2 separate regions of the Homo sapiens genome follow, and region 2 is linked to region 1. Evidence: fine-mapped expression QTL. A gene starts in region 1. The other region holds a variant in brackets. All regions are shown on one strand. Distances are from middle to middle. Region 1 holds the start of CNGA4 (cyclic nucleotide gated channel subunit alpha 4). Region 2 holds the start of CAVIN3 (caveolae associated protein 3).

Region 1 (8,057 bases):
CCGAGGGAGGAGCACCGCCTCTCCTCTTGGTTCCGTCCCTTCGTACGTAAACCCCGCCCCTCAGAAGGACTCCGGCGTGTCATAGGCGAAGGCCTCTGGGAAGGTGGAGGCCGGCAGGGCGGAGGCGGAGCCCGGGAAGGAAAGGTGGAACCAGAGGGCAGAAGGCGGGACCTAAGGAGAGGCGATTTTTACAGGCAGGGAAAGATCAGAAGGGCGGGGCTTGGGAGAGATGGAGCCGGAAGAAAGACGAGCGAGAAAGGGGTGGGGCCATGGATTCCAGGAGACGCTTGGAGTGGAAGAGTGGGTGTGGAGGGGCGAGGCTATCACGAAAAGAGAGGAGGAATCAGTAGGTGGGCCGGGCCTGCGGAAAAGTGGAGCCCTAGAGAGGGCTGACTGCGGGCACTCTAGTTCATTTTGCTCCATCGTCGTGCATAGCTTGGTCTCTACTTTAGTACCCCAGCGGTGACTGCCCCTGGCTCCCCCAACACCGCTGTGCTGTGCTGCTCCGTCACCCCTTGAGCACTTAGTCAAGGAACACGGAATAAGTGCCTGCATGCCCAGCTGGATTCCGGATCAATTAGAACCGGCCTCTGCTCTCCAGGACCTCAGAGAATTGCAGCGTAGTGTAATAAGTACATTACTACGGGGGCCACCTAGGAGCAGCACTTAGCATGATTTGCATGTATAGAGGATGAGAGGAAGGTACGGTGAAGGAGCTTAGGGAAGACTTCCGGGAGGTGACGGTGTCTAAGCCGAGTCTTGGGAAACAAGCAAGAGTAAGATAAACTAAAATAGAAAAATAGAAGTTTCAGATAAGGCATGTAGTTTTAAAAGTACTTTACCGGCTGGGCGCGGTGGCTCACGCCTGTAATCCCAGCACTTTGAGAGGCCGAGGCGGGCGGATCACGAGGTCAAGAGTTCGAGACCAGCCTGACCAACATAGTGAAACCCCGTCCCTACTACAAATACAAAAATTAACTGGGCGTAGTGGCGCGCGCCTGTAATCCCAGCTGCTTGGGAGGCTGGGGCAGGAGAATCGCTTGAACCCGGGAGGCGGAGGTTGCAGTTAGCCGAGATCGCACCACTGCATTCCAGCCTGGGCGACAGGGCGAGACTCCGTCTCAAAAAAAAAAAAAGAAAAGAAAAAAAGAAAAGTATTTTGCCAATGTTAAATACCTGGTTTTTATCATTGTGCTATAGTTATGTAAGATCATAACGTTAGGGGAAGATGGATAAGGAATTTATGAGAACTCTGTATTATTTTTGCAACTTTTCTGTAAGCCTAAAATTAGTTCAAATAAAAAGTATTTAAAAAGAAATAGAAGTTTCAGACCAAAGGATCAGCATATACCAGGGAAAGGAAGAATGGACAGCATGTGGGAGGTGCTGTAAGAACTGCAATCAGTACAGTGTGTCGGGAGCCTAGGGAACATGTGAGGAAACATTGTGAGATGAGGCTGAAGACATGGACTGGAGAACTTTATAAACCATGTTAAGGAATTTAGATTTTATTTTTGGGATGATAGCTATAAAGAATTTTATACATAGATTGATAGTTATACAGTAACTTTGCAAAAGACCAAACAAGCTGATAAGGCCCAAACTAGAGTAGCAAAAATGCAGAGAAGTGGACATGTGGATTTTTAGAAGGTAGATCACCATGGTTTGATGATTGGGTGGATATAAGAGGAAAATAAGAGGAAGAATTAAAAACTAATGCTTAGTTTATATAAATTCAAAAACAGGTAAAACTAAACTGTGATATTAGAATTCAGGATAGTGATTATTCTTGGAAAAACATTGACTGAAAGGGGCAGAGTGGGGCTCCTGAGGCACTGGTGATGTTCTGTTTCTTGATCTGAGTGCTTGGTTATATGGGTGTGTTCACTTTGTGAAAATGTATTAAGCTATATACTTAAGGATTGTACACCTTTCTCTGTGTTTGTTTGTTCTGGTTACTATGCTATGTGACAAACCAACCCAAACTTAGTGTCATAAAAACAATAGCCATTTTATTATGTGCACAAATTCTGGGAATTTGGACGAGATGCAACAGGAATGGCTTGTCTCTATTCCATGATGTCTGGGGCCTTATTTGTAAAGCTTGAACATCTAGAGGTGGTTTGAGGCTGGTGGCTGGAAGCATCTGGAGGCTTCTTCAGTCACACATCTAATTCCTGGGCTGGGATAATGAAAAAGCTGAACTCATTGGGCAAACTGTCAAACAGAACTTCTCACAATGTGATGGGTAGGTTCCAAGAGGGAACATTCTGAGAGGGAGCTACCAGACAACACGCATTCCAAGAGAACCAGAGGGAAGCTGCATGGCCTTTTATGATCTAGCCTTAGAAGTCACACAACATCACTCCTGCTATACAAACTATCACAAGGGAGTGGTGTCGAAGAATTTGTGACCATTTTTTTTAACTGCCACAACATTATACAGTAAATAGTAATAAATGCTTGTCATAGGTTTTTTTGCTGAAAGGGCATAGATAGGAATTCTAGAAGAAAAAGTGGAGGAAGATAATGAGCTTAGTTATAGACCCAATGGGTTGAAGGTGACCGCGGGATACCCAAGTAGGAACATCCAGTGAGCAGTTAGTCATATAGATAACTGAAACTCAGGGAGAGTTCTCGGGAGCCACTATATGAGAAAGGAAGTCCTGTGGGTGACTGACGTCAATCAGACAGAGTTAGGAGGATGGCAAAAGTAGAAAGCCTAGAACAGAATCCAAGAAAAAAAAAAAACACCATCATAGAAGGAATAGACAGAGGAGCTTATGAAAGACACTAAAAAGAAACAGCAAACCAAGACATTATGGCATTACAAAGGATTTTATTCATTTTGTTGCATTACTTTGAATGTTGTCTTTTTATTTTAACAAGCGTAATACTTTGCAAAAAGAAATTAAGAAGCCATGGGAAAAGAGAGTTTTTCAAAATTTAATTAGGGACCACAGGTTTTTCTTCTAAAACACACTCCAAAAACACAAACCTGATTTTATCACTGAACTGTGAAAAACTCTTCACAGGTTCTCTATTGCCGTTGGGTAAAATCCAAGCTTTATAACATGGCTGACAGAACTCCTCCTGAGCTGGCCTCTGTCTATCATTCAACCTCATCTCTCACCACTACCCGCTAGGCCCTCTAAAATAAGCCAATTGATATTTGCCCAGTCACCCACGCTTTTTGATATCTCTATGCCTTTGCCCACTCTGTGCATTCTGCCTCTAGTGCTCTTCACCCTCCCATCTCTGTACCCAACTCCTATTCATCCTGCAGAACCCAGGCTCTGTAGGGCCACTTCATGTGTACTATAATAGCCTTCCGTGTATCCAGCTAACAGAGTACTCATCAGCAGCCTGGCAATGACTGCTGCTGTTTAGTTACCTCATGTGTAATTACCTGCTGGCCTGACTATTTCACCTAGCAGACTGTGAGCTTCTGGAGAAGGGGGAGCGTGTCTTATTCATCTCCAATTCCTAGTATTTAGCACAATATTGGCCTGGCACACAGAACACCTGCCTATGGGTGTTCTGATTTTGATTTGTTGACTGAGAAAGATGATAGCAGTGAAAGGAACATCAGGTTGAGGGAGAAATTGTAGGGTTTTTGTTTGTTTTGATATAGGAGATATTGAAGCAGGTTCACAAAAAGAGAAAAGTTGAAAGATTGGGGACCATAAAACACATGGAATGGTTGGTAGGATCAGGCACTAGAAGTCACAAGAAGGATATGAGGACAAAAGCACCATAGGATGGCCCCTATCACACTACCTATGAGAATGGTGTGATGGGGGAAGGCGTATGTGGAGGTAGATAAGGGTAGGAAGTAGGTTACAAAAATAGAGCTCACTTCTCATGTGAGAGGCATCTCTTTGTCCCTGGAGAATAGTTTAGCACCTGACATAGATAAGCCATTCAGTAATAGTTGTTAAATAAATAAATAGTGAGGCCCAAATAGAATTTGCAAAGATAAAACAGAGTGTTTGATCCTACACTAAAACTGAGGTCTTCTGACCCAGAGGACACCTATGTAGCTCAGTTGCTGTGGAAAGAGGGGAGGAGGAAAACAGAGACAAGACTCAGGCTTCCCTCTGAGGCATGCACCCCCACCTTCTCCAGGGATCTCATTAGAGGTGTTTAGCTGGGCAGGTGTAAGCCCAGGCCCTGGGAGACAGGGCAGAGTGCTAGAGCTAGACTGTCTCCACCCCTTCAGTAGCGCTAGCTCTGGTTGTGTTGCTAAGAGCCCCAAAGACAAAGAAGTCACAGCAGAAGCCCAACAGCAGCCTCCTTCAGGCAGTCAGGCACTAGTGCCCAACTCCAGAAGTCCCCTACAGGCAGAGAGGGTGTGGACATCTCACACCCCAGCACCAGACCACAGAACCATGAGCCAGGACACCAAAGTGAAGACAACAGAGTCCAGTCCCCCAGCCCCATCCAAGGCCAGGTGAGAAGTCCTGGTCCCTTGTGTGGGATCTCTCCTCATTCCTCTTGGTGCCCCAGTCACAACTACAGCTTTGAATGCCTGGTGAATAAATGAAGCAAGACTTTCTTTCTTACAGGAAGTTGCTGCCTGTCCTGGACCCATCTGGGGATTACTACTACTGGTGGCTGAACACAATGGTCTTCCCAGTCATGTATAACCTCATCATCCTCGTGTGCAGGTATGGCAGCGGTGCTAAGGGAGGGGCTGGAAGCCAAAAAGAGGACTAAAGAGAGGTCAAGGAGAAGGGCAGACCCTTGGTGGGGCAGGAGGAGCAATTCCCATGGGAGGGCCTGAGGCAGAGGGTTAAGGGCCCTGGGGAGACGCCTCGCACACAGAGGGTGCCCTTAATTCAATCATGCTTAACCCTGCCCTGCAGAGCCTGCTTCCCCGACTTGCAGCACGGTTATCTGGTGGCCTGGTTGGTGCTGGACTACACGAGTGACCTGCTATACCTACTAGACATGGTGGTGCGCTTCCACACAGGTCAGTGGGCTTCTAGGAATGACCCTTTGTCCCACATTCCCTTCCTAAAGATAGCCACTTAAGAAGTAACAAGAAAGGCACCCCCACCGTGGTAGCACCTTCGCGTGCCTCTATGCCTGACAGCATCCCAGTGCTCACCCCGGAAAGCCGGGAGCAGAGTTATGCCTGGCTCCACTCTGTCCTTCAGACAGTCTCCCTGGCCTGCCCTGGGCAGCTCATGCTCAGCCCAAGCTTGACTACAGCAGGTCCGCTTCCTACCGGCTCCCTCTCCCCAGGATTCTTGGAACAGGGCATCCTGGTGGTGGACAAGGGTAGGATCTCGAGTCGCTACGTTCGCACCTGGAGTTTCTTCTTGGACCTGGCTTCCCTGATGCCCACAGATGTGGTCTACGTGCGGCTGGGCCCGCACACACCCACCCTGAGGCTGAACCGCTTTCTCCGCGCGCCCCGCCTCTTCGAGGCCTTCGACCGCACAGAGACCCGCACAGCTTACCCAAATGCCTTTCGCATTGCCAAGCTGATGCTTTACATTTTTGTCGTCATCCATTGGAACAGCTGCCTATACTTTGCCCTATCCCGGTACCTGGGCTTCGGGCGTGACGCATGGGTGTACCCGGACCCCGCGCAGCCTGGCTTTGAGCGCCTGCGGCGCCAGTACCTCTATAGCTTTTACTTCTCCACGCTGATACTGACTACAGTGGGCGATACACCGCCGCCAGCCAGGGAAGAAGAGTACCTCTTCATGGTGGGCGACTTCCTGCTGGCCGTCATGGGTTTCGCCACCATCATGGGTAGCATGAGCTCTGTCATCTACAACATGAACACTGCAGATGCGGCTTTCTACCCAGATCATGCACTGGTGAAGAAGTACATGAAGCTGCAGCACGTCAACCGCAAGCTGGAGCGGCGAGTTATTGACTGGTGAGAAGGCGGGGTTCCAGACCAGGACAGGGACCAGTGTAGGTGATGGAACCTGAGGGAGGTAACTGGGTCCTTAGTGCCTGGTGAGCCAGGCAAGGCTGTCAAAATGTAGCATTCAGCCGTGGGTTTGCTGGCTGGGGCTTGGAAAAAGGGAACTTCTTTCAACTGAGGGAATCAGGACTTGGGGGAGGGGTAGGTAAGAGACTGATAGGGAGAGGAGCTCATACTCAAAAAAGGATAATATGGAGACCAGGGAATGGGAAGTGCCACTGCCTGGTAGGGCTCAGAAGGCTCTGGAAGGAGTGGGTGAAGAAGGGCAATCCCCCCTGAGAATGGTCAGCAACAAGATCATTGGCTACCTATGGTGATTCATACTGTGGACTGAACAAAAGGAAGTGTCACAAAGTTGGGGAAGTAGAGCAGAGGGTCCCCAGAGAGGAGGGGCCCTTGGTGGCTGAGGTAGCTAAGGGTAGGGGTGGAACAAGACATCACTGATTGGTGGGTAGGGTAGAGCCTGATAGGAGGTGAAGGGTTATGTAAAGTGGTAGAGGTGTCTATGCCCTGGAAAACAGGTAATCCAACTGTCAGGTACTCCCATGACCCCTGTTAGATCTCAGTATGGTGGGATTCTTGGCTGGAGCTGAGCTGAGCCCTGAAGGAAGGGATGGAGGCAGGCACATAAAGGGCTGGTAAGGAAATGGCACTGTCCTTACTCTCAGGTATCAGCACCTGCAGATCAACAAGAAGATGACCAACGAGGTAGCCATCTTACAGCACTTGCCTGAGCGGCTGCGGGCAGAAGTGGCTGTGTCTGTGCACCTGTCCACTCTGAGCCGGGTGCAGATCTTTCAGAACTGTGAGGCCAGCCTGCTGGAGGAGCTGGTGCTGAAGCTGCAGCCCCAGACCTACTCACCAGGTGAATATGTATGCCGCAAAGGAGACATTGGCCAAGAGATGTACATCATCCGAGAGGGTCAACTGGCCGTGGTGGCAGATGATGGTATCACACAGTATGCTGTGCTCGGTGCAGGGCTCTACTTTGGGGAGATCAGCATCATCAACATCAAAGGTGGGTATCCCAGTATTTGTTCCAGGGACAAGGATGGGTGGGGTAGGGGGGAACAGCAGAGCCCAGTGCTGGGACCAGATAGTACTTCAGGCCTAAACTTCTGATTGAGGAAACCTGGCCCTTCTCTGAGTCACTAGATGGCTCAGGAGAAAAACAACACATAGAGGATCCATTCCCTGAGAAGAAGCTGAGCCAAGGCCAGTGAACAGGGTGGGTTCGTGGAAGAGAGAGTAGACTTGCTCTGTGGATATTCACCTGAAGCACCAATAGACTAGTGGACAGTGATAGAGATAATAATAATAATAATAGCTAATATTTATTACCTGCTTACTGCATCCCCTTTTCTAAGTGCTTCACATGATATTAACTCATTACATTCCCGCAGCAGTTCTATAAGATAAGTACTATTCTTATCCCAATTTTAAAGATAAGGAAATCAAACTCAAAGAAGTTGGGTAATTTGCCCAACGTCGCACAGGTATACACATGTGGGATGAGTGGAAAAAACAACCTTTTTACAGCCAAGTGGAAAGAGAAAGGTAGAAGAGAAGAAGTTCCCATTTACTGACCATCACCTCTAGGCCAAGCCAGGTACTACCTACTGGCTTGCTTTTTCCTCTCATCAGCCCTGTGCAGTAGGAATTGTTATGCCTAATCACAGGTATTAGGCATGAGGTCGTGCAAGCAGGAAATCCTGCAAATGGGGTAAGCACACTGTCATGGACCGAGAAGCTGGATGTGCTCTGGCTCTCTCAGCATGAGGATTCTACCCTCAGGGATTCTGAAAGCCTCACATCTGTCCTCCAATGATCCCCTCAAGCTCCACATCCTGTATGTGGTAGGATGCTGTCTGTTTGACTTTGGACAAGTCATTTCCCTATTTAGGCCTCAGTTTAATCACCTATCCAATGAGGACAATAATAAAAACCCAATGAGTTATTTGTGAGAATAAATGAGCTATGTGAGTGAGGCATCCAGCGCAGTGCTTGGCATACAGCAAGTGTTCAACAAATAGTAGCTCCCTTTCCCTTGTCCAAGGTCCTTCTAGCTCTAAGACTTTGCAGCATTCAGCCTCACCTATCTCCCCACCCA
Region 2 (15,560 bases), 82 kb after region 1:
AAACCTTTGTCTTCCTTTACCTCCTGAATATATACATAATTTACTGTGGAAGACATACACATTCCCATTGTAACGCCTATTCCCAAATAAACATCATTTTCTTCTAGAGAGTCTTCCTCTCCATTTGTTATTTAGGTTGACAGGTCAGAGTTCTCATGACCTAAACAACTCCCATTAGGCCTCATTTCCCTCCCAAAACTGTTGCAATGGGGACTACATTTCCAACACATGAATTTTTGGAGACACACTCAAATCATAGCAAAAAAAAAAAAAAAACACGTTGAAAAGAGCTCCCATATACCAAGAAGTGACAGGTAAGCATCAGGAGAAAACCTACCAGCCAGCAATTGATACCAATTCAGTCTTTAAAAAGAGCCATGAATTCATAACTATTCTAAAAATGAAAGGTAGGAGAAGGGAAATCATACTAAAAAGTAAGATATGTATCTTTCAAATTAGCTTTACAAAATTATGGAATAATGATCAAGTTAACTGAATCAAACATTCGGAGAGTTGGTCAACACAGATGTTAACAATTTCAAATGGTATGCAAACATAAGAAGGGTACATTTGTAATTTTTTTTAAGTTTAAGAGTATTAAAATACATTTTGACTAGCCAGATTTAGAGATATCTAAAGGTTAGGGCAAAACAGGTAGACTGTTGGGGAAAGTGGGTAAAGAAATCAGAATAAACCAGGCATGTAAATACATAAAGAATACAGGAAGTAATAATGATATCATAAAATTAATGCTACATTTAATAATCCACATTACTTTAGAATGGTCTAGTCCATGAGTCTCTGTGAAATAAAAGGAGTTGTTTAAATTGGGTTGGACTGCTCTGTCTTCATTCTGTGTTGGAGAGAGGAAGATCTATAGAAGTCCAGAAACAATATGACTCATAATAGGGGATCATCTCAAACCTATCTTCTCTAATAAACCAGACTTCCTAACAAAATGTCCATGCTTAAGACACAGGTTATGGATTAAAGAAAATAACTATCAGAATAATTAAGCTCAATCTCACAGGACCGGGGGTAGGGGATGATTGTTGGACTCTTGTTTTAAAATGACTGAATAAAGACTGTGCTTTCCACCATCATGTTAAAAATAATTCTAAAATAGAAAAGAGACCATGAATGCAAACTCTGTCTGCCTTTGATGAAACTAAGAAATATCTGAAACCACAAGGATAGATGTCAAGACAGTACAGAACACTTTAGTGTTGGAAATGCTTGTGGAATAGACAGCATTCGCGTTCTCTTCAATGCTGAGGTTATATGATTCCTCTGCTCACAATAAAGGAAAATCAAAAGGACGTCTAGTTCTTAACTAGGGAAGAAGTTTCCTGCCAGGAATGTATATATTTTTGCCCATGTAAGAGGCATGTCAAAGCAGAAAGTGGGCATATTATGTTAGATTATCCTGCCCATTATCTTTATCCAGTTTCTACTATTCTATTGCATTATACCTAGTTTAAGATCTTACTTTGGCTTCCCATGTAGACTTTGTTGAAGGATGAAAAATGTTTTGAATAGCTAGCTAGACTATTCCAGTCACTTGGCCATTAGATTTCTTCGGGAAATTAATGAATCCAGCAATCAAATTAATCAGTGTTTTCTGAGTGCAGTTATTGCAGATCAGCCTAATCTTGCTGGAATGCAAGATAAATTTGTGTTTCTGGCCTGAAAAGTTGAAAGCCAAAGTGAATGTTAATGATCCACTAATGTACCTTCCGTCTGCTTAAATAGCTGCTAAATGCCACATGTGCTGGATGACAAGTTGGTATTCTGTCATTGTCTCCACTTCCTTTATTTTACTTTTTTAAAGGCAAGGTCTCATTCTGTCACCCAGGCTGGAGTATAGTGCCATGATCATAACTCACTGCAACCTTAAAATCCTGGGCTCAAGCAATCTTCCCACCTCAGCCTCCCAAGTAGCTAGGACTACAGGTGTGCCCCCATGCCCAACTAATTTTTTTTTAAACTTTTTTGTAGAGACAGGGTTTCACCATGTTACCCAGGATGGTCTTGAACTCCTGGCCTCAAGCTATCCACTCACATCAGCCTCCCAAAAGGCTAGGATTACAGGCATGAACCACTGCACCTGGCCATTAATGTTTAACAATATTAATAATAACAACCAGCAGTGATAATGGAGAACATAATATAACAAAATGAGCTATGAAGAAATTTAACTAATTTTGTTTTAACTTGATCTTATTATTTGCTGCTATAGACAACTCAGGAAGAAATAAACATTAATATACCCTTCCCTTGCAAAATTAGTCAAGCCTTTGGGTTTCTAGGGGTCAAGATGTTTTATACGGAAAATGCACACTTAGTTCTTAATTCTAATTGTGGGTTGAAAGGGGAAAATCAAGTAGATTTCCAGGAATTTGAAAAAACAAGAATTTATTTTTCCTTGGGGACAGAGAACTGAGTCTGCTCATACCAGTCCCATTGAGACGGCCAAACCTTGAAAGGGGCACAGTCTGAGCACCAGGGTTGGGAGCCTGCAGGAGAAGGGTTGAATTTCCCCAGACCAAATGGAGCTACTGCAGAGCCGCCTTCCATGGAAGGACCCCTGCCCGCTACACCTCCTCTACCCTAACTGTCCCCAATATATTGCCGGTCAGGCTGACCTCCGGGTAATTAGAGGAGGCACCAACGAGGACACTGGCTCCCCGACACTGACATCGTGTGGTCATAAGGAGCAAGGGCAGCAGAGACATGCAAAGGCTGAGAGATGGTATGAGCCCCCTGGTACTGCACAGTCTCGAAAACGGGAAGATAACTAAAATTGCTAATCATCAACTTCCCAACAGCATGGCAGGCATGTGGGGGCTTAAACTCTTCTTATTGAATCCATGAAAATAAAAATGTGACACCACTCAAACTCAAGTGTCAAGGAGTAATTCATACGTGTAACTCTGGTCCCAATATTACTCCCCAGTGTCCTTATCTAAAGAACACCCCCACAAACCTTATCTGTATCCTTAGTCTGTTTTCTTTTTCTTCAGAGCTCATAACCAGAATGCCCTTGTGGTTCATGTGCTTACTTGTTTTATCTGGCTTACATGTTTACTTATTTATTACCTGTCTCTTCCTACTGGAATTTAACTCTATAGAGGTATGGATCTTCTCTTTCTTATGTGCCACTGTATCCTCAGATTTTATTTTATTTACTTTATTTGTTATTATTTTATTTTTTGAGACAGACTGTCGCCCTGTTGCCCAGGGTGGAGTGCAGTGGTGCAATCTGCAGCCTCTGCCCCCTAGACTTAAGCAATTCTGGTGCCTCAGCCTCCCAAGTAGCTGGGACTACAAGTGTGCACCACCACATCTGGCTAACTTTTTGGGTATTTTTAGTACAGACGGGGTTTCGCCACGTTGGCCAGGCTGGTCTCAAACTCCTGGAGTCAAGCGATCTGCCCGCCTCAGCCTCCCAAAGGGCTGGGATTACAGATGTGAGCCACCACGCCTGGCAGTATTCTCAGATTTTAAAATAGCACCTGGAAGACCCTAAGAGTTCAGTAAGTTATTTGTTGAATGAGTGGACAAATAAATTATATACCTGAAGCTTATGGAGCAAAAACTATACTCCGGCAATGTGCTGGGCACTTGATTTATGTCACTTAATCTTTCCAACAATCTAAGTAAGGGGCTATAATTATCTCATTTTATAGATAAGGGAACAGAGAACCCAAACTACCCACCGCTGAGCTCTACTGCCCCTTGCCATTCCTGTTTTCCATCTCACTATTTACCATTTCCAAGAACAATTCCTTATATATCTCCCACTTTTCCTCCTTCAGGTTGGGTCATGCCCCTTCCCCATTTGCTCTCAAAATAACTTACATGTAACCATCATTCATTACAATTGGTGATGGTATCTCCCTCTAAATCCCGAGCTCCCCAAGGTGTTCATGAGACCTAGCATAGGGCCTGGAACAAAGTAGGTATTAAAAACGTTGTTATATGATAGTGACTGAATGAAGGAGTAGGTGACTGTGCTCCTCATCCTTAACCACCACTCCCACTTCCAGTTTTTTGTTTTTCCTTTTTTTTTTTTTTTGAAACATGGTCTCATTCTGTCACCCAGGCTGGAGGGCGGTGGCATGATCTTGGCTTACTGCAACCCCTGCCTCCTGAGCTCAAGTGATCCTCCCACCTCAGCCCCCCAAGTAGCTGGGACTACAGGCACAAGCCACCACATCCAGCTAATTTTTGTAATTTTTGTAGAAATGGGGTTTCATCATTTTGCCAAGGCTGGATTTGAGCTCCCAAGGTCAAGTCCTCCACCCACCTTGGCCTCCCAAAGTGCTAAGATTACAGGCATGAGCCACCGTGCCCAGCCCCTTCTGTAATATTCTTGCTTTACTGCAGCAGGGAACTCTCCTCAGCCCCTCAAGAAGGTCTACCGTGTGCCAGACACAGTATTTGGTGTGGGAAATACAGAAATTAATAAAACTGTCCCTACTGCAAGAGAGTCACAATCTAGTAGATCGGAGGGGGCGTAACCACAAATCCTCACAATCAGTGCAGTTAGCACTAGAGGTGTGCAAGTGGTGCTTTGAGAGAAGGAAGAGAAATACCTGGCCCTGAAACAGGTGTGCTTTACTGAGTTTGGCAGGATAGCAGGGATGACAGTGAGAGCACAGAGCTCAGTGTGACTCAATGGTAGCACAAGGGGAAGTGGTGAGAGATGAGGCTACAAAAATAGGCAGGGACCAGATCACAAAGGGCCTTGAAAATAATTATAAAGAGCTTGGTCTTTATTCTGAAGATAATGGGGAGACACTGAAATATTTGAATCAAGAATGATGTGATGAGATTGGCAGTTCAAATACCGGTCAAGTGAAAGGCCTGAAATAAGGCAGCGGCTGTATTAGAAAAGTGGACAGATTGCAGAGGTAAAATCATTAGAATAGCTGTTTCCATGTGGGAGGGGGATGAGAGAAAGTCCTTGAGCCGACAAGGACTCCCAAGTTTCTCTGTGGATGATGGTATATTGATTTTTTTTGTCATCATTGGTAAAGAAAACACAAGAGGGGGAAATATTCTGAACCATACCTAGTAGGGCCTGCCACATAGTAGGTGTTCAATAAATAGCTGTTGAACGAAATGGAATTTAAAAGGTAGAAGATACTTGCTACTTTTGAAGCACTTTTCAACTGTGGCTCAAGACAGTGGTATGGGGTGTACGCAGCTGGTAGGGGAGGCCTAGGCATGAATGTCAACCGAAAAGTACCCTGAGTAAAAAGAGGGCCAAGAAAGGAATCCTGGAAAACTCAACTTTTAGGAGGTGCCAAGGAAAGAAAAGACTAAGAGGAAAACCATTAGTTGACACTGAGTAAGCACCTACAGCAAGGACTATACTGGATGCTAAAAAAAAAAACACACACACACACTCACACAAAAACAACAACAACAAAAACTGCAACTGTGTGTTCCCATGAGGAAAGTGTTTAAAGAGCAAGTGGTCAGAAGGATATTTCTATGTGTCACTGGAGGCTAGAACCCAGGACTCCGTGGAAACTGGAGAAATTGTACGATTCCAGGTTCCAACATTTGTCTTATTCCTTGTAACTGCCTTCCCACATCCAACCGCTTCCCCATCCCTTCTCACGGAGTCTGGTTCGGGTGAAATTACTTTTATTGATGGTGAGCGCAAGCAGGTGTGAGTGACTGCACCTCTTTCAGAGGACACAGGACTGGGCTTAAGGAAGGGAGGGCCAGAGCGCCCGCCTTGGTGGATGTAGGATTCGCTCCTTATTAGGGCGTGAGTGCTACATTCTGAAAGGATTTATTTTGGGACAAGGCACAAGCACAGGGGAGGCAGGCAACACCAGCCCTCAGGCTACACTCTCCATTTGGAGCAGAGCTTCTTCGGCAGCCCCAGGTCTCCCGGGATCTTCCTCGGTGTCCTGCGGAGGCTCTGGCTCCAGCGTGGGCTCCAGCGCAGGCTGGGCTTCCGGCTGGGCTTCAGCGCTCCGGCCAGGCCCAAGGCGAGGCGGCTTGACCGGGGTGGGCGGTGGCGCTGCAGGGCCTTTCCGGCCCGAAAGGGCCCTTCGGAGGCTCTGTACCTTCTGCAATCCGGTGCGCCGCAGCCGCTGGGCCCTGGACTCCACCGGCTCCTCGTCCGAGCTCTCTCCAACTTCGGCCTCCAGCTGCTCTGGGCCCAGCTCGGACTGGTCCGCCGGGCCCAAGGGCTCTGGTGCCTTCTGGAAAGCGCTGGCTGGGACTTCACCCTCCTCCTGCATGTGACGGACACAGCACTGATCCTGGCAGCTCCTTACCCCCAGCAGCCCGAAACTCACTCCTTAATTACACAAGGGAAACCTTTTACCTCCGCAGCCAGAGTCTGGGGGGAAAGGCAGGCGTGGGAAGGTAAGGGGAGGGAAAGCTGCGTGCGAACTGCAAAACGCTGTAAAGTAGGTGAGGCCTGGTGAGGGGCGAGAAGAGGATAGTGCCCGCAGTCACGGAATGCCCTTTCAACCACCGTTATTTTAGGGATTGGCTGGGACTCAGACCAAATTCTGCGGACGTGGCCTGAGCTAGAGCTGGGCGGGCTTGGATTGGCCAGGCGGGGCTCAGGCGTGAGAGGGAGGGATGGGGCTGGGTCTTGGGAAGTGGGTGCGGCTCTGTGAGTCTGTTCCACAGCAACAGACGGCGGGAGGGGTCAGGAATGTGGGTGTGGTAGGTGGATGGAAGCGGGGAGCCCCCAGCTGGTGGCCCACAGGCCGGCAAAGGCCTCGGATTGGGGACCGTTTGAGGTCACTGACCTTGAAGAGCAGAACGTGGAGCTTCCCGCGCGCCACCAGCAG[C/T]CCGTGGTTGGCCTCCAGCCGCTGCACCTGGGCTGCGCGGCGCACCGCGCGCTCTTGGGCGGCGTTGGCGTGCGAGCTCACGCGCTCCGCCTTGGCCAGCAGCTGCGCCAAGGTGTTGCTGGTGGTGTCGTGGCTGCGACTCAGAGCGCCCAGGCCGCTCTGGATGCGGCGCACGGACCCTGCCAGGCCTCCCTGCCTTCGAGCCAGGCCTCCCTGCCGCTCCCGCAGAGTCTCCAGCATGGAGGCCAGCTTCTCCAGCAGGGTCACCACCGTCACGGCGTGCACGGGACCCCCCGCCGGCGCCTCGGGCACAGGCCCCCGCTCCAACGCACTCTCCCTCATGATCCCTGACCGCTCTGCTCCGTCTGCCTGCAACTGCTGGCCGCACTACGGTCAGGGGCCTCCTTTCCCTGGCTCCTCCCCAGCTCCAGCTGTGACTCAGGCAGGCGGAGTTGGCCTTCTGGGGCGGCGGGAGGGCGCGAGGGCGTGGGGATGTTGGCAGCGGGGTCTCTTGAAAGCGTTTCGCCTTCCGCTGTCCCGCGCCGGGGGCCTGCTGGGAAGCCTGTTGGCCCCAAATCGGCCCCCTGCAAACCCTCTCACTCTGAGTTTGAGTTACCCTCCTCCGCTCCAATTCCCTGGTGTGCCTGTTTCAGTTCTCCACTGCAAAGGGCGAGTCACGGAAATTTTTATTTCATGCATCTTAGTGGGCGCAGAGACTGTGTTGGCACGGCAAAGAGATAACCAGAGGGGCCTCCGTCGCCGTCCACTTTCGGCCTCCCACACCAGTGAAGATTGCCCCCAGGCTGGATGCAGGCGACAGGGAGGCCCTGGAACATTCTGCTTACAGATCGCGAACTGTCAAGGCCCGAGGCCCCGCTTTGTGACTTGGACAGGCTGCTCATTGTGGGCTGGCGGGCGGGGCATCCTCTGGTGTTTTCCTAATAGTCATCTCCAGGGTTTAGCCTCAGGCTTCGTTTCCTGCTTCTTTATTTCGTCCTCTTGGGTAGCATTATCTGGTTTCTTTTCTCTAGTTTTCTGCCCTCTCTTTCTTTGGGTTTCACTGGTAAATCTCAGCCGCCCCGGCCCCAGCACCCAAGCTTGGAGGATAAGCAGGACACCTTCACCTCTTTTAAAATCCTTAAAAGCGTTAGACTAGGCACTGGTCTTTGCTTTGATAGAGGTTACTTGGGCTCCTGCCTGACTTTTTTTGCTTGTTTGTTTGTTTCTTGTGTTCTGTGGAACTGCGGAGAGTAAAGATTTGAAATTGCTGCTGCAGAGAGGGAGAGAGTGGGCATGGAGGATCCAGTTAATGATGTGGATTGTGAATTTCTAATGTCAGCAGTTCGAAACATCCCATGCCTTAGCCGGGCGCGGTGGCTCATGCTTGTAATCCCACCACTTTGGGAGGCCGAGGGGGGAGGATCACGTGAGGCAGGGAGTTCCAGACCAGCCTGGGCAACATGGCAAAACCCCGTCTCTACTAAAAATACAAAAATTAGCAGGGCGTTGTGACACACGCCTGTAATCCCAGCTACTCGGGAGGGCTGAGGCAGAAGAATCGTTTGAACCTGGGAGGCAGAGAATGCAGTAAACCAAGATTGCTCCACTGCACTACAGCCTGGAGGACAGAGCAAGACTCCATCTCAAAAAAAAAAGAAAAGAAAAAAGAAAATCCCGTGCCTTGTTTGTAGCAATACTTGGCAAACCGTCTCACAAATGCAAGTAATCCATTAATCCTGATGATCTCTCTCCCTCTTCCTCTTCTCACTGAACCTGTGAGGGCCACTTGTTGACAACTGTGGAAGAAACTTGTGTCACTCTGGAAATAGTTACATGGGCCTGAAGTGCCACAGACGTGGGCAGCTAATGCCAGAAATCTGGTGATGCTAAGCTGATGGCTGATTTCTACAAATACAAGGCCATAAGCCTGACCCCTGCTGCTTAATACAAGAGAAAATAAGCTCTCTTGGGAATCTGGTGGGAATCACCATCTCTTCCAGTGAAACTACATTTACCCAGAGAGATCCATCAGGGATGTACCAGTTAAAATGCTTTCAGACTGAGGGAACAAAAACTCAATTCAAACAGTACTTAGTAACAGGAAACTCAATTCAAACATAATTGAAAAAGAGGATTGGTAGAGTGGTGATTAAGTGTGAGTCATTCACAGCTCCAAATCTGGTTTTCTACAGTTCTCTCCACTGCTCAACTATGAGCCCCATCCCGCACCTCTCACACTCCCCCATGTCCCCCACACACCCCCTACCCATGTGTATGTGCCCACATACGCACAGGTGTCAGCTTCATTCCAGGCCTCACAACTCTGCACAAGATCTTAAAAAAAAAAGGGGACCATCTTAAAATTTAGGACATTTATTTCCCAGAAGCCTCCCAGAATTTTTACACTTGCCTTCCACTGGGTTACATGGCTTTTCCAAATCCAAATTCTATGGCTACAAAAATGACATGCATTGATGGGTTTAGGCCTATGTTCCCTAAACAATCACTGACAAGAAATCTAATAATTGGCTTTTGACAAGTTAGATCAATTCTGAAGTAGAGTAGATTCAGCTTCCCCAGGAGTATTAGGGTGGTATGGGAGGAAAAGTGGATATCTGTACAAAAATCTGGGTACTACTGGGAATGGATATTAATATTACAGGAAGCCTATGAAAGAATCACCAGCTTTGATGAGTGGGGCTAAGGAAATTCAGTGCATTTGGAAGTAAGAAGTACTTGCATAGATACTTGGATAGATTTGGATAGATTTTTTTTTTTTTTCCTGAGACCAAGTCTCGCTCTGTCACCCAGGCTGGAGTGCAAACGCGCGATCTTGGCTCACTGCAACCTCCGCCTCCCAGGTTCAAGCAATTCCCCTGCCTCAGCCTCCTGAGTAGCTGGGATTACAGGCACGCGTGACCACGCCCAGCTAATTTTTGTAATTTTAGTAGAGGCAGGATTTCACCATGTTGGTCAGGCTGGTCTTGAACTCCTGACCCCATGATCCGCCCACCTTGGCCTCCCAAAGTGCTGGGATTACAGGCGTGAGCCACCGCGCCCAGCATAGACAGATATTTTTTTAAAACCTGGTAATGAAGTGGCATTGTTGTCTGGAGTAAATACCCGAGATTGGTTGTGTCACAGCTATGGAAAACTAGGACATGGACACACAAAGAGGTTCAGAGCAGAAGTTGAATAGGCAAAAGAAAAAGAAGAGCTCTCTGCAGCAGAGAGGGGTCCCAGAGAAATGGGTTGCTGGTTCCACCGTGGAATGCAAGGGATTTTATAGATGACCTTAAGGAGGCAGTGTGTCATTTACATAGGGCACAAAAGATTGGTTGGACCAGGTGTGTCATTTGCATACAGCTCAAAAAACTGGTTAGGGCTAGGTATGCCATTTGTATAGGCACAAAAAGATGGCCACCCCCACCCTAATCTTTTATTTTGCAGATGGGTTCTCTACCTGGCCAGTGCCATGTTGCCTGTTTCTTTACTGTAACTGTGGTGACAAAGAAAAGGGAAGATGGAGCCTCCATGTTGAACATACCTGGCCCCCAGGTAGCCCTTTTCTATTGACACAGCTGCTGGCATTCACCCCTGCAGGCTTCCAGCTTGCTTATCTATGTTTGCAGCTTGATTTTTCAGGCTGTTCTTTGTTAGAAAAGAAATGATTTGGGGGCTGATTTTTGTTAAAAGGGAAATTCTGCTGAGGACTCTTTTGCCCTCACTATCTGCCTAATTTTTTTCCATCTCCTGTAGCACTAACTCCCTCTCTGGATATCTGGAACAAGGAGGACCTTAAACTTAACAATAAAGCCAATGATGGTTCTACCAGTCTCCCCAAAGCCTCAAGTTTAAAAGCCATATGAACTGGCTGATAGTGGAAAATGGAAGCCATGAGGTAAGTAAAAATAACTTGGGGCCAGCTAGAAGAATGCCTGAGTCAATAATGCAGAGATTGACAGAAATTGTAGTAGAGTGACCTTGATTATAAAGTATCCAAGGAAGAACTGTATTGCAGTTTCCAAAAAGGGTAAGAAAAGAAGAAAACAAAGAAAGATGCAGAATGATGCCCTCTGTTCAAAAATAAACTTACGAACCTTAAAATTTTAAAGGGTTTATTTGAGCTAAGAACAATTCATAAATTAGGCTGCACTCAAGGCCAAAAGAGGTTCAGAGAGCTCAGCTGCAGCAGTGTGGGCAGTGAGCTTTTATAGGCTGAACATGGAAGTAAGACAAAGAAAATATATTTGATTCATTAATATGGAAATTCCCCTAGTTAGAGGTTAGTTGGTGGTTTCTGATTGGTAAGGTCCCTAGTTTTCTTTTACTTTTTACATTGGGCTTTGGTTTGCTTATGTAGGAATCAAATGTGGTGGAGCCATCTCAGCCTGATGGCTTCCCAATTAAAAAACTTTATAACACCTCTAAGGCAGTGGTCTTAAAAATTTCTATTCTTAGCCAGATGCGGTGGCTCACACCTGTCATCCCAGCACTTTGGGAGGCCAGGGTGGGCGGATCACCTGAGGTCGGGAGTTTGAGACCAGCCTGACCAACATGGAGAAACCCCGTCTCTACTAAAAATACAAAATTAGCCAGAGATGGTGGCACATGCCTGCAATCCCAGCTACTCGGGAGGCTGAGATGGGAGAATTACTTGAACCCAGGAGGCAGAGGTTGTGGTGAGCTGAGATTGTGCCGTTGCCCTCCAGCCTGGGCAACAGGGGTGAAATTCCGTCTCAAAAAAAAAAAAAAATTCTCTAAACTAGGGGTGTGGCTGGCATCTACTCTCTCATACCCCATGGTATGGACATGAAAAGTGGAAACTTATTGTCGCAGGTTGCTTGTGTCCCCAAAAAGATATATTTAAGTCCTAACCCCTGGTGCCTATGAATATGACCTTACTTGGAAATATAATCTTGCAAATATAATTAAGATGAGGCCATAATGAAGTAGAGTAGGCCCTTAATCCAATATGACTGGTGTCCTTATAAGAGAGGGAAGAGATACACAGGGAGAACACCATGTGACAACAGAGGCAGAGATTGGAGTTAGCTGCCACAAACCAAGGAATGCCCCAGAAACCGAAACAGGCAAGGGAGGATCCTTCCCTAGGAGCTTCAGAAGGAACATGCCCCTGCCAACACCTTGATTTCAGGCTTCTGCCCTCCACAACCATGACAGAATAAATTTATGGGGTTTCTGGCATTGGTGTTGGTGTTTTTGAGACAGAGTCTTGCTCTTGTCGCCCAGGCTGCAGTGCAATGGCATGATCTCAGCTCACTGCAACGTCTGCCTCCCGGGTTTGAGTGATTCTCCTGCCTCAGCCTCCTGATGAGCTGGGACTACAGGTGCCCGCCATCACACTTGGCTAATTTTTGTATTTGTAGTAAAGACAAGACAGGGTTTCACCATGTTGGCCAGGCTGGTCTCAAACTCCTGACCTCCAGTGATCCACCTGCCTTGGCCTCCCAAAGTGCTAGGATTACAGGTGTAAGCCACTGCACCCAGCAAAGTTCTGTTGTTTTAAGCCACCTAGTTTGTGACTTTTTTTGTTTTGGTAGCTCTGGAAAACTAATAACAACTTTGATTAATCAATATCAGTATTACAGTATCCCATTACCCAGGATGCTCCTGCAAATGGCTTCCCCAATTATGTGAAAGTATTAGAGTCTCTGTAGGAAAAGTTAATAAAACCTGAAGACTCACAGTAGAACACAGACAAACCAATAGTTGCCCAGATGTAATGAGTCTTGCAAAAATGAGTGGAATACTATGGTAGTTGAGCTAACAACTGCTTTAAAAAACTAAAAGGTATTACCCATCCTGTTTGTCAAGGGTTCCATTTATATACTGGCCCATCCCCTCCCCAGAGCACAGCCTACTATGAGGAAGAGTTGGCTGTACTAAGGAGAAACAAATCCACTACACCTTTCATCAGGCCTGGGGCTGTCTGAAATATATCTGCCTAACAAAGATCTGCTTAAGGGTGGCCCTCTGTCTCTACCTATTCAAGAACAGCTGGATGCTCCTTTCGCTTTAAGGAAATCTCTGAAAAAGACAGATCAGATCATAGTGCCTTAGATGGTATCATTCTGCATCTTTGTTTTCCTTCTTCTTTCAGTTGCCAGGTGCCCCACTATATGAAGTTGCCAAGATCCCCTAAAACAAAAGTGACAAAGGCACTGCCATTCTTCACATCATACCCAAGAGGATGAGTCTGTCCCACTGGGTTCAGAGACCATCCACCAGAAATCCAGCAGACAGGGATTACCTAGAATAGTAGTGCTTAAACTCAGGACAGGTAGTGAAACATGTAACACCTCCTACTGCAACAAAGAACAGAGGGAGGTGTTAGAGTCAGCAAATGCTTCACCTTGGAATTTTCACACACTCTATATCTTGAGTCCTCCAAAAGGCTACATACTTTCAGTAGGATTGAGAGAAGCCTCAGTGACTAACCCTGGCAAGTTACAAGCCACAGTATGGTCAATTCTATCCTTTGGGTCCTACAAGTCAGAAAGAAAAATGAGACCCTGAAGTCTCTGTGATTTCTACCTCTTCCACCAAGATGATTTGTCAGGGAGGGAGGAGGGCAGATCCTACAGGGGAAAATACAGCATAAGTATTTAGGATTTTTGACTAAGGAATGCTTTTAGCAGCTGAGAATTGTACTGCTTTTGAAAAACAATTGCTGGCTGATTACTGGAGGGGAATAATAGTACTAGAGGAGAGACTCGACAGAGGTTGCTGAGTGGTTTTGTGAATTGGAACCCTTTGTCTTACATAGCAATAGAGCTTAACAGTCTTTGATTATTAAATAGAAAAATCAAAATCTAAGAAAGGATGAGAGACATCTATGTGAGCTCATTACCAAAGAAATATCCCTGACCAGGACCCTCACTTTCATCTGCCCAGAAAAACTGATGCATCCTCCAGGCACTAACCTTTAAATCAAAAGTAACAATGTGAGGCACAGACAGACCACTCATTTAACAGGCAATGTGCCTCAGTAGACAGGCACTACCTTCCACCCTTTGTCATAGACATCCTGTCTACGGAAGAGGTAAAACCATTCCACACAATGAGGGAGCTCTGTGCCCCTGGCAGTTACAATAGCTATAAGTTTGAGGCATCAGGAAGTGAATTTGTACTGACTCCAGAAATCAAAATATCCAAATGGATGGAAGATCTCGGAATGGTATATTATGACCAGTAGGCTTAGGGATGCCTTTTATAGCAAGAATCACGCACATTATTCACTCAAATGACTATTTTTGTATCTCATATTTTAGTATGTTGAATAGTGTCTTAGTCCATTTTCTGTTGCTATAACTGAATACCACGGGCTGGGTAATTTATAAAGACAGAAGTTTATTTAGCTGATGGTTCTGGAGGCTGGGAAGTCTGACAGCTTGGTGCTGGCATCTGGTGAGAGCCTTTTTGATGCATCATAACATGGCGAAGGCATCATATGGCGAGAGGGCAGGAGTGTGCATGTCAGCTCAGGCCTCTTCTTCTTATAAAGCCACCCGTCCTATTTTGGGGACCCCACCCTGTTGACCTTATCTAATCCTAAGTACCTCCCAAAGGCCCCACTTGCAATCAACATATGAATTTGGAGATTAAGTTTCTAACACATGTAATTTGGTGGACACATTTAAGCAATAGCAAATAGTGTCCCCCCAAAAGATATATCCAAGCTCTAACTCCTAGTACCTGTGAATATGACCTTTGCAGATATAACTACATCTTTGCAGATATAATTAAGTTAAGGATCTTGAGATGAGATCATTCTAAATCAAATGCCTGGTGTACTTATAAGTAGAGGAGAAGCCACAAAGACACAGAAAAGACTGTGCTGTGAAAATGATGGAAGAGATTGGAGGGCAGCCACAAGCCAAGGAATACCAAGGATCAGAAGCTAAGAGAGAGGCATAGAGTGGATTCTCCCTCAGAGCCTTCCAAGAGTGAGTGGCTCTACCATACTGATTTTGTACTTCTGCCCTCTTGGACTTTGACAGAATACACTTCTGTTGTTTTAAACCACTTAATTTGTGGTAACTTGTTATGGCAGACCTAGAAAACTAGTACATATGTAGACACTACCAAAAAGATTAGGGATAGAAAAAACAATTTAAAAGCAAGTAAATCCATCAATATGTCATGGATGTTTGTTTTGGCCAAGGCATACTGGGGGCATCAGAGCACCAGACACCTGAGATAAGAACTAGGTTGACCCAAGCTCACATTGTGAAGTATGTAATTACTGCTGGAGCCAATTGTCAGGATGTAGGAGTTTGGGCTCCTTCTGCAAAAATGCCCTGGGACATTCCAAGAGGCAAAAAAAAAAAAAAAAAAAAAAAAGTCTGGAATTACTAAATAGACTCTATTGAGTTTCCTTCTGTAATCTGAGGAATTCAGTGGGCTCTGCCAGCAAGGAAGCCTTGCCTGGGTTTGAGTTTGCATTCTTAGGCAAATCACTGAAAAGCCACCATCAAAGGACTGCAGCCCTCCACCTTGAGCTAAAGCCTCTAATCCAGGAATATATTTTACCACCCATATGATAAAGGACAGGGCAGATCATTGGAGGATGATGTGCCTTACCTCTTACCTGGATTGAGAGATAGAATGAACCACTGAAGAGGGGCTTGGCCATGATTCCATGGTCAGTAATTCCAGATGGGTGGTGACTTATAGACTATTGTATATAGCTAGAGCCCTGCAACA

The links.
Region 2: its variant is fine-mapped to the expression of CNGA4 in tibial nerve (GTEx, PIP 0.98).

Annotation. Positions count from the first base shown.
Region 1 is chr11:6,234,816-6,242,872 of GRCh38, forward strand. CNGA4 (cyclic nucleotide gated channel subunit alpha 4) reads left to right here and starts at 4,274. Exons shown (of 6, transcript NM_001037329.4): 1 at 4,274-4,453; 2 at 4,569-4,670; 3 at 4,869-4,975; 4 at 5,251-5,896; 5 at 6,616-6,965. The coding sequence starts at 4,392. RefSeq lists a silencer at 1-25 and enhancers at 68-758, 156-235.
Region 2 is chr11:6,313,305-6,328,864 of GRCh38, forward strand. CAVIN3 (caveolae associated protein 3) reads right to left here and starts at 7,197. Exons shown (of 2, transcript NM_145040.3): 1 at 6,789-7,197; 2 at 5,642-6,260. The coding sequence starts at 7,172. The coding sequence ends at 5,859. It overlaps LOC101927825 (a long non-coding RNA gene), which reads left to right and starts at 5,837. Exons shown (of 7, transcript XR_930998.4): 1 at 5,837-6,393; 2 at 10,281-10,388; 3 at 10,590-10,731. RefSeq lists enhancers at 5,873-6,610, 7,154-7,203, 7,414-7,773, 7,784-7,843, 7,874-7,963. The variant C/T (reference allele first, on the strand shown) is at 6,831.